2 linked regions of the Homo sapiens genome follow. The protein of the gene in region 2 purifies or fractionates together with the protein of the main gene of each other region. This does not show direct contact. Each region holds a gene or a part of one and is shown on either strand. Other genes may lie near its edges.

Region 1 (4,477 bases), on a different chromosome or scaffold from region 2:
CCCGTGCCCAGGCTGTGCCGTCACCCAGAGGGCCTCTCCCACTCAGCTGCACTTGGCCAAGTGCAGCTGTGCATGCGACTGAACTGAATCTGCCTGGCGCAGGAACCTGATCCTAGCGCCCTGACCCTCCTATTTGGAGAGCCCAGGCCTCTCCGCACACCTCTGGATACTTGGGATTTTCGCTGTGGTAGAAAAAGTCTCCACGGCGAATGATGTCCACATGAGGGTCCTCCAGCTTGGATAGGCTCAGGGACTTGAAGTTGTCGACTTTGTCGATGAGGCCTGAGGGGACCAGAGTGGTTAGAAACCCAGGGGACCAGGTGAAAACCTCAATCTGCAAAGTCCCTGGCCTGACCCCCTTCCACTGCACCCCTGGAGCCTGCACACGTGGCACTCCCACCTGCAGTGCCTCTTTCTGACTCTGTCTCGTCCACGGCTTCCCCTGGGTTAGACCATCTCCTCCAGGAAGCTTTCCCTGTGCCCTCTCCCACCAAGTCAGAGTGACCACAGCACTGGGAGTGGCCTTAGCCCTTTTCCCTTCCATCAAGGTTACGGCCATCCACGTCCAAGCCTGACTCACCTCCTGGGTTGAGAGCTACTTGAGGGCAGGCCCAGCTGGCACACAGGCACCATCCAGCAACAAAGCACACAGAAAGCGGCCAGGCCAGGCCCAGGATCATCCAGCCTCCCCAGGACTATCTGGGCCCTTGGTATCCTCTCCCACCTTCATGGGTCAGGCCCAGGAACAGAGCCCCAGGGTTACTCTGGCCCATGGTGCCACCTTATCCCTTGCAAGCTTCTCTTTGGAGTCAATGGGGGATGCCTGTGATAAGCTAGTGCCTTCCTGGGACAGGTGGAACTCAGAGAGGGGGAGCCCTAGGCTGAGAGCACTGAGCCACCACATGTCTACTACTAGCCGGAGTCTGCTTGAGGAAGGACTGTCTCAGCAGAGTCTACTCAGCAGACACCGGCACGCAGCAGGGTGAGGATGCATGCCTGAGTCATTCTCTGGAACAACCCAGATTTCAGAGGAACCTGGTAGGATGGAGTGGGGTGGGGGTTTCTACGTCAGCCCTTGCTTCCTGGGGATTCGCCTTCCCCTGGCCCCCAAAGCATGGTGCTGGGAAAGGTGCAGACTGATCCTGTGCCTTTAGCCCTCTGAAGGCTGAGTACTGGGAGCTCCGGCCCTAGGGGGGCCTTGTGCTTCTGGCACGAGCTCCTCTGGAGAGGCCTGAGACTTACCTGACGAGAGGAAAAACCTGCCAATTTGGACAAAGGGGGCTGTTGCCATGAATGACTCCACTGCCATGGCACTGTGGGAGAGAGGAAGCTGTCAGAGATGGGCACCGGTGTGGGAGCTGCCCGGGTCCCTTTGGGTTGTTTGTGCTGGGCAGGGTCCCCACCCGGGGGTTCCTGCAAGTCCAGATTAGCCCAGGCGCAGCAGACATCTTGTCCTGTCCACCCCCAGGGGCCCTGTGCCCCCTCCCCTGGGCTGAGCACCCTCACTCTGTCTCCTGTTCCCCGGAGCTTCCTACCCTCTTGCCTAGACCCCTGCCAGCCTGTCCTGCCCCACCCACTGCTGTCAGATGTATCTTGCATGGACTTTACACCCCTCACTAGCCCCTCCCAGAGCATTCCATCCCAACCATCTTACTGGCACAGCCCAGACCATTGCTGAACAAGGCCTGCTCTCTAGCCACACCCAAGTGTTATGCCCGCCTCACCACTGGCATGCCGTGGAGCTAACCTCCCTCTGCTGAAATCCTGAGAAGCCTGAACAAATGCCGCTGCCTCTGGAAAGCCTGTCCTGATTGTCCTCCCACCCATGGCAAACCATTAACAAAATGCTTCCCCGGCCCCGTGTGTGCAAATCCCCTTAGACGCTTAGTGCAGGCCTTATATTTGTGACTTGTTTGCGGGGAGCTTGTCTGGGGTCAGGGGAGACAAGTCTCTGTGTTCCTGGTGCCCAGCACAGGGCTTGGTCTCAAACCCATGTCCCACATTTTCAACCCACGAGGCAGGATTAACTCAATCCTGTTATTCAGATGAAGAAACTGAGGCTGGAGACCTGCCAGTGTAGACAAAGCTGCACTCAGGCCTTGGGCCTGGCTCTCACCTGGGGTTTTTGTGGCCAATCTCTCGGTCGAAGTTTTTGCTGTTGATGATTTCTGACCTCCATTCAGTGTCTGCTCAGGGAGAGGAATCAACTCAGAGCCCGGGTAGGAGTGGCACGCGGCTGAGACCCACCAGCCCAGCTCCTCCTATCTCACAGCCAAAGGGGTGGGTCAGGGAGCCTCAATGGATGGGTGGGAAAGCAGGGCTCTGAAGACTTGCACCCAGGGATCCTGATGCCTGGTGCTGAATCCTTCCCATGGCCCCACCAACAGCCCTGCTGTCCAGCCACCACTGTGGGCCCCCACCATGGGCAGAGACCACGTAAGGGGCCCAGCACTCACTGTAGGAATACCTCGTCTCCTTCTTCACCTGCCCATCCTCGGTGTACTCCCTGCAGGGAAAGCAAAGCAGCCACGGGGGTTAGCCTCGTCGCCCCAGGCAGTCTAATCTCTAAGCATCTGAGCAGGAAGCAACCTCAGGGCTACCAGATCAGACTCCCCAGATACGGCAGATGCCTTCTCTACACCAGCCCCAAGACAGGGCACTCACTCCTGACAGACAGCCAGCTCCTGCCCTCCAAGGCGCTACCTGGAGGAAAGCGCTCTCCCATCCTGAGCTGAAATCTGCCCGCACTGGCCTTACACCAAGGGGCCCAGCCCTGCCCTTTGGGCTCAGAGATCTGGCTGCATCCTCTGCTCCAGGACAGCCCTGCGGGGGGCCTCTTGAAGCTGCCCTTCTCCTGCTCCTCCCACCACCTCCCCACCTGTCGGTCACAGTCCATATGATTCAGGTGGGGCTGAACCCACCCCCAGCTCCAGGTGACCCCAGCCCTGATCAATGAGAACCTGCCCTGGGACTCCTGTCAGAAACGATAAGCTGTAAGTAGAGCAAAGATGGGACCAACACAGCTGATGGGAAGGCTGAACACAGAGAGATGCAGTGGGGTCTCGGGGTTGACATGCTGATCCTAATGACAGTGTTTCAGGCCTGCTCCAAGTCATGCTTCAAGCTTGTGCATCTCTGGAACTTCCCAGATGTGGGAGCAACTCAATCCCCCTTTCCTCCTGGAGCCACTCTTCACTGGATTTTTGCCACTTCCAAATCACTGGCTATTAATTTGGGGATCATTTCACACTTTTCTGATAGGAAGATGTTATACTTGAGTTTCAAAGGTATCAAAATGAAAGACATCTGCATGTTATCCTGACACCTACACTTCACTCCTCCTTTACCCCAACAGAGTTTTCACCCCAACAGCTCACCTGGACTCCTCAGTTTCTACCCATTGGTACATCTCCACGTGCCTCCGCAGTTTCACAGCCGGAAGATGGACCCCATAGTTTGGATCAGACAAAAGCTTCAAACAGAATCAAAGAAACCAAAAAAATAAAGGATAACATTCACGTCAGCCCAGAAAGCCTGGCTCAGGGGAAGCTGGACTGGAAGAGGAAGAAATAGAGAAGGGGACAAGGGTGGAGAGCCCTACACTGCTTTGCAGGGGAGAATCGAGGACACTCCCTGTCCCAGGTTCTTTACACACAGTGCCTGTGACTGTGACCCTCACAGTACAGGCCTGGGCTGCATGGCCCAATGGCATGGTGCCAACAGCGTACAGGGTGTTCAAATAACAGGAAAGCTCTGGTGCCCAGGGTAGTTTTGTGGCCTTGCACTGGACACACATGGTCATCAGAGTCATGAGAGCACCTCCCTGAGTGCCAGCCACTGTACCAAGGCGTTAGTTACCTAATCTCACCAAATCCTCAAGGCTGGCCACAAGCTTGTAACCATTACCGTCCCCATTTTATACACGAAGACACTGAGACTCAGGATAGACAAGTCCACACAGCTGCTGAGTGGTAAAGTCGGGAATCACTCCCATGTGTGACCATCTCCAAGGCCCATGCTTTCAAATCCTCAGCCAGACAACATCCAGGATGAGCCCCGAGCCACTGGCAGGTCAGCATCCCCTGCCAAACCTACCTTGGATGTCCGTAAGGCGCCAATGATGTGCACCAGCCTTCCTTCATTCTCCGGAGCCACACTGTGGATGCTGTCGGGAGACACCACAAGCGAGAGCCCCTCAGCCAATGAGGTTGCCGTCTTCAATGCGCGGCCCTGGGAGCAAAGGGGAGTGGGGATTTCAACAGCTCAGGGGTGGCTCAGCATGACTGTGCTTGTTGCAAAGTATTAGGGTAGGATGGGGCCTCCGGGAGCGCTGAGACCCATCTCCCCACCGTACAGTTGGAAAACTGAGGTCTAGCAAGTGGAGAGTAAGGACTGGAACCCAGATTCCTGCTTTCCCAGGGAGACTTCTTCCTACTGCCCCATTGGTTCCCACTAGCCCCCACCAATCTTAGCACTG
Region 2 (5,455 bases):
ATCCTGAGCCAGAGTGGTGGTGGTGTACACCTATAGTCCCAACTACTCAAGAAACTCAGTCAGGAGGATCACTTAAGCACAGAACTTTGATTCCGGCCTGGGCAACACAGTGAGACCCTATCTCTAAAAGGAACCAAATAATGTGAAGTGTATTTCCAAAGCATTTTGTTGTTGTTGTCTGAGAAGGAGTCTCGCTCTGTTGCCCAGGCTGGACTGCAGTGGCACGATCTCGGCTCACTGCAACCTCCACCTCCCAGGTTCAAGCAATTCTCCTGCCTCAGCCTCCCAAGTAGCTGGGATTACAGGCATGTGCCACCACACTGGCTAATTTTTTTTGTATTTTTAGTAGAGACGGGGTTTCACCATATTGGCCAGGCTGGTCCAAGTGATTCCCTTGCCTCAGCCTCCCAAGTAGCCGGGATTACAGACGTGTGCTACCACACCCAGCTAATTTTTATATTTTTAGTAGAGATGGGGGTTTCACCATGTTAGCCAGGCTGGTCTTGAACTCCTGACCTCAGGTGATCTGCCCACCTCGGCCTACCAAAGTGCAGGGATTATAGGCGTGAATGAGTGTGCCCAGTCTGCAAAGCATTTTAATATCTGTTTATAATTTACCTGTAATTTCTGTTGAAATAAGAATTGCTTAGGTTAGTGCTTTGATAATACTAAATATAAATTATTCTTACCTATTCATTAAATTTAGCAAGTTTTCTATAAAAAACTAAATTATCTTTTCCTACTTTCAGTAATCTAAACAATCTAACTTCCCAACTAGTCCCTATTATTCTTTTTCTTTTTTTTTTTTTTTTTTTTTGAGACAGAGTCTTGCTCTGTGGCCCAGCCTCTGTCGCCCAGTCTGGAGTGCAGTGACAGGATCTCAGCTCACTGCAACCTCTGCCTCCCAGGTTCAAGCCATTCTCCCATCTCAGCCTCTGGAGTAGCTGGGATTACAGGCACACGCCACGAGGATCAACTAATTTTTGTATTTTTAGTAGAAACGGAGTTTCACATTGTTGGCCAGGCTGGTCTCGAACTCCTGACGTCAGGTGATCCGCCCACTTTGGCCTCCCAAAGTGTTAGGATTACAGGCGTGAGCCACCACGCCCGGCCTCCAATCAGTCCCTGTTATTCTAACTTTGTTATATTTCATCTTAATCTCAAAAAGGAGATTTGCTCAACTCTTACTTATGAAATTTACTGCAGGAAGGAAGAGGATAATAATATAGTACAAAGGTACCTTCTGATGGAACAATAAACCAAGAATGCCTGTCTCTTAATACTCTAGTTCATTAACCCACAGACGTATTGATATGTATGCTTTTTTGGAACACAGAGAATTAAAAACACACTTTAAACATCTCAGGTAGGTCAAACATGAAAAGGTCTCTGCAGAATCTTGTAATAACAAATACCTAACTGTCATTACATTTATGCTCTGGCTATTACCTAATTCAATACGTATCTTGAGGCCTCCTAATAAGTTATATTCACTCAGAAGTTATATTCTCTAAAAAAAGAAAGCATAATCAGCAAAAAGCAAAAACATCAGGGTGTACTAAATCCAATTGAATAAAAAACGTTGTTTTGGTTTATAAATATAAACCCCATTTATTTATTATTTATTTACTTTTATGAGACGGTGTCTCACTCTGTTGCCCAGGCTGGAGTGCAGTGGTGAAATCATAGCTCACTGCAGCCTTCAACTCCTGGGAGTTGAATGCCTTCAGCTTCAATCCTCCTGCCTCAGCCTCCTGACTAGCTGGGACCACAGGTGTTTGTGACCATGTCTGCTTAATTAATTAATTAATTTTTTTTTTTTGAGATGGAGTCTCACTCTGTCACCAGCCTGGAGTGCAGTGGCGTGATCCTGGCTCACTACAACCTCCGCCTCCTGGGTTCAAGCAATTTTCCTGCCTCAATCTCCCAAGTAGCTGGGACTACAGGCACACGCCACCATGCCCAGATAATTTTTGTATTTTTAGTAGAGATGGGGTTTCACCATGTTGGCCAGGATGGTCTTGATCTCTTAACCTCGTGATCTGCCCCCCTTGGCCTACCAAAGTGCTGGAATTACAGGCGTGAGCCACCACGCCCAGCAATTTTTTGGTTTTGTATTTAGAGACCAGGTCTCACTATTTTGCCCAGGCTGGTCTTGAACTCCTGGCTTCAAGCAGTCCTCCTGCCTCAGCCTCCCAAAGTGCTGGGATTACTGGTATGAGCCATAGAACCGGGCTAGAAAACCTATTTAAACACAAACCGTTTTCACAAGGCTAAAATAGTTATTTTTCTATATATTTTTATTCAATAAAAAGCTATTCAATAAAGTAGGTAAGGAATGAGGGTAATATATATATATAAGTATTGAGTTTTCTGTAGGCTGACATCAAAGCAAAGACACATTATACATGCAAGTAGTGTATATTTTTTCAGGATGTCCATTATGATAATTTATAATTATAGGCCAGGTGTCGTGGCTCACTCCTGTAATCGCAGCACTTTGGAAGGCCACGGTGGGCAGATTGCCTGAGGTCAAGGGTTCGAGACCAGCCTAGCCAACATAGTGAAACCCTGTCTCTACTAAAAATATAAAAAATTAGTCAGGCGTGGTGGCACACCCCTGTAGTCCCAGCCACTGGGGAGGCTAAGGCACAAGAATTGCTGGAACCTGGGAGGTGGAGGTTGTGGTGAGCCAAAGTTGCGCCATTGCACTCCAGCCTGGGCAACAGATATTAATTATAGATGAATTATAGATATTAAACTGTTTTGGAGGCACACTTCACATCATACACTTCTTAAAGGTATGCTACTTTTAAATCCATCTAAAAGTATGCTACTTTTAAATCCAATTAACTTGCCCCAGCCCAGTTTTAACTTACTTTCCTGCTAGAATCAGGTCCAGAGTATAAGAAAAACTAACAAAAATAATTTCATATTATGAGCATCTTTTAAAACCTTCAAAACCATTACTAATTTTTTTTTCTTTTTGGTAGACAGAGTCTACCAAATCTTGTTTTTATAGGTCTACATCTAAATTTATAGTATACACATTTATAATGTGCCTTATGGCCACATTACACACATGTGCCTTTTAGCATTTACAGCTACTTACACCAGCACTTTTCTTTTTTTTTTTTTTTTTGAGACAGAGTCCTGCTCTATCACCCAGGCTGGAGTGCAGTGGTGTGATCTCGGCTCACTGCAACCTCCACCTCCTGGGTTCAAGCCATTCTCCTGCCTCAGCCTCCCAAGCAACTGGGATTACAGGCATGGGCCACCACCCCCAGCTAATTTTTGTATTTTTAGTAGAGACGGGGTTTCACCATGTTGGCCAGGCTGGTCTCGAACCCCTGACCTCAGGTAATCCGCCCACCTCAACCTCCCAAAGTGCTAGGATTACAGGCGGGAGCCACCACGCCCAGCCAGTACTCTGTATTTAGTAACCTCCAAAGCTTCCATCATACTAATTCCCAGTCTGAATTACCCTATTATGTGCTTTTCCAACCTCCTCCCAGGCCAAAGGTACTGTTATAGAAAGCCAGAATTCGCCGGGCATGGCGGCTCACGCCTGTAATCCCAGCACTTTGGGAGGTCGAGGCGGTCGGATCATGAGGTCAGGAGATCGAGACCATCCTGGCTAACACGGTGAAACCCCGTCTCTACTAAAAAAATACAAAAAAAATTAGCCGGGCACAGTGGCGGGCGCCTGTAGTCCCAGCTACTCAGGATGCTGAGGCAGGAAATCGGCATTAACCCGGGAGGCGGAGCTTGCAGTGAGCTGAGATGGCGCCACCGCACTCTAGCCTGGGCGATAGAGCGAGACTCCGTCTCAAAAAAAAAAAGAAAGCCAGAATCACGCTCTTGGCCTACAAGACGTTCAACATGTTTTTCTAACTTCAGTTAGGGATATCACTGGCAAACAGTAATTCTTTTATAGCAGTCCCCAAAAGAGCTATTTCAAGTCACTTTAAGCCTTTGATTTTACCTTCCTTTAACTGCAACCAATGATGCTGCCTCCTACTTTAATGAGCACCCCAATCTCTCCCTCAAGATTTGTTCACAAAATTATCTTCCCTTGCTCCTTTCCCTTCATCTTATCATTAAATGTCAACACACTTCCTTCTATATCTTGCTCTCTGAATTCTTTCTCCATATACTCAACATCTTCAATTTTTCCCTCTTACAAGTACCTTTCCTTTAACTTCCAATATGCATAAATCCATCCTGAAAAATAATTTAACCTTAATGTCCCTCCAGTAGCTCCATAATTCTCCTACTACTTTTACAAAGCAAAATATTCCAATGTCTACGAGATCTTAGGAATGACTCACACTGGTCATCTAGTCCATTAGTTTTCAATATTCAGTGTTTTCTAGATATACTTGATCCCACCACGAACGAAGGAAAAAAAATCCATTTATCCTAAGGACATAAGCTTACAGGCCAACAAGTCTCTTAAGGTCACAAGAATCCACTGTAATATTGTCAGAAATAAACTTTATTTCAACGGTCTTAAACTATTAAAAAAATTAATTGAAAATGGTATTAACATCAAGTATAAATTTAAACAGCTGAAGTATCATAAAATAAAATCTTTTTTTTTTTTTGAGATCGAGTTTCTCTTGTTGCCCAAGCTGGAGTGCAATGGCTTGATCTTGGCTTACCACAACCTCCGTCTCCCAGGTTCAAGCAATTCTCCTGCCTTAGCCTCCCAAGTAGCTGGGATTACAGGCGTGGGCCACCACGTCCGGCTAATTTTGTATTTTTAGTAAAGATGGGGTTTCTCCATGTTGGTCAGGCTGGTCTCAGACTCCCGACCTCAGGTGATCTGCCTGCCTCAGCCTCCCAAAGTGCTAGGATTACAGGCATGAGCCACTGTGCCCAGCCAATAAAATCATTTTTTTAATTTTATTTCGAGTCTTGCTCTGTCACCCAGGCTGGAGTGCAGTGGCGCAATCTCGGCTCGCTGCAAGCTCCGCCTCCCAGGTTCACGCCATTCTCCTGCCTCAGCCTCCCAAGTAGCTGGGACTACAGGCACCACCCGCCACCTCTCCCGGCTAATTTTTTGTATTTTTAGTAGAGACGGGGTTTCACCGTGGTCTGGATCTCCTGACCTCGTGATCCGCCCACCTCGGCCTCCCAAAGTGCTGGGATTACAGGCGTGAGCCACCGCGCCCAGCCTTAAAATCATTTTTTAAAAACACAACAGAGGCGAGACACAGTGGCTCACACATGTAATCCCAGCACTTTGGGAGGCTGAGGTGGACACATCACTTGAAGTCAGGAGTTCCAGACCACACTGGCCAACATGGTAAAACCCTCTACTAAAAATACAAAAATTAGTTGGGCGTGGTGGTATGCGCCTGTAATCCCAGCTACTGGGGAGGCTGAGGCATGAGAATCACTTGAACCTGGGAGATGGGGGTTGCAGTGAGCTGAGATCACGCCACTGCAC

The links.
Region 1: the proteins of TMEM41B (region 2) and TMEM43 purify together in Homo sapiens (affinity purification with mass spectrometry; 2 studies listed by BioGRID). This does not show direct contact.

The regions. Positions count from the first base shown.
Region 1 is NC_000003.12:14,130,575-14,135,051, reverse strand, and holds part of TMEM43 (transmembrane protein 43), read right to left. Parts: intron 4,231-4,477; coding exon 4,096-4,230; intron 3,473-4,095; coding exon 3,378-3,472; intron 2,507-3,377; coding exon 2,457-2,506; intron 2,190-2,456; coding exon of another isoform or gene 2,187-2,189; coding exon 2,117-2,186; intron 1,314-2,116; coding exon 1,243-1,313; intron 283-1,242; coding exon 161-282; intron 1-160. UniProt on the Homo sapiens protein: May have an important role in maintaining nuclear envelope structure by organizing protein complexes at the inner nuclear membrane. Required for retaining emerin at the inner nuclear membrane.
Region 2 is NC_000011.10:9,302,855-9,308,309, forward strand, and holds part of TMEM41B (transmembrane protein 41B), read right to left. Parts: intron 1-5,455. UniProt on the Homo sapiens protein: Phospholipid scramblase involved in lipid homeostasis and membrane dynamics processes. Has phospholipid scramblase activity toward cholesterol and phosphatidylserine, as well as phosphatidylethanolamine and phosphatidylcholine.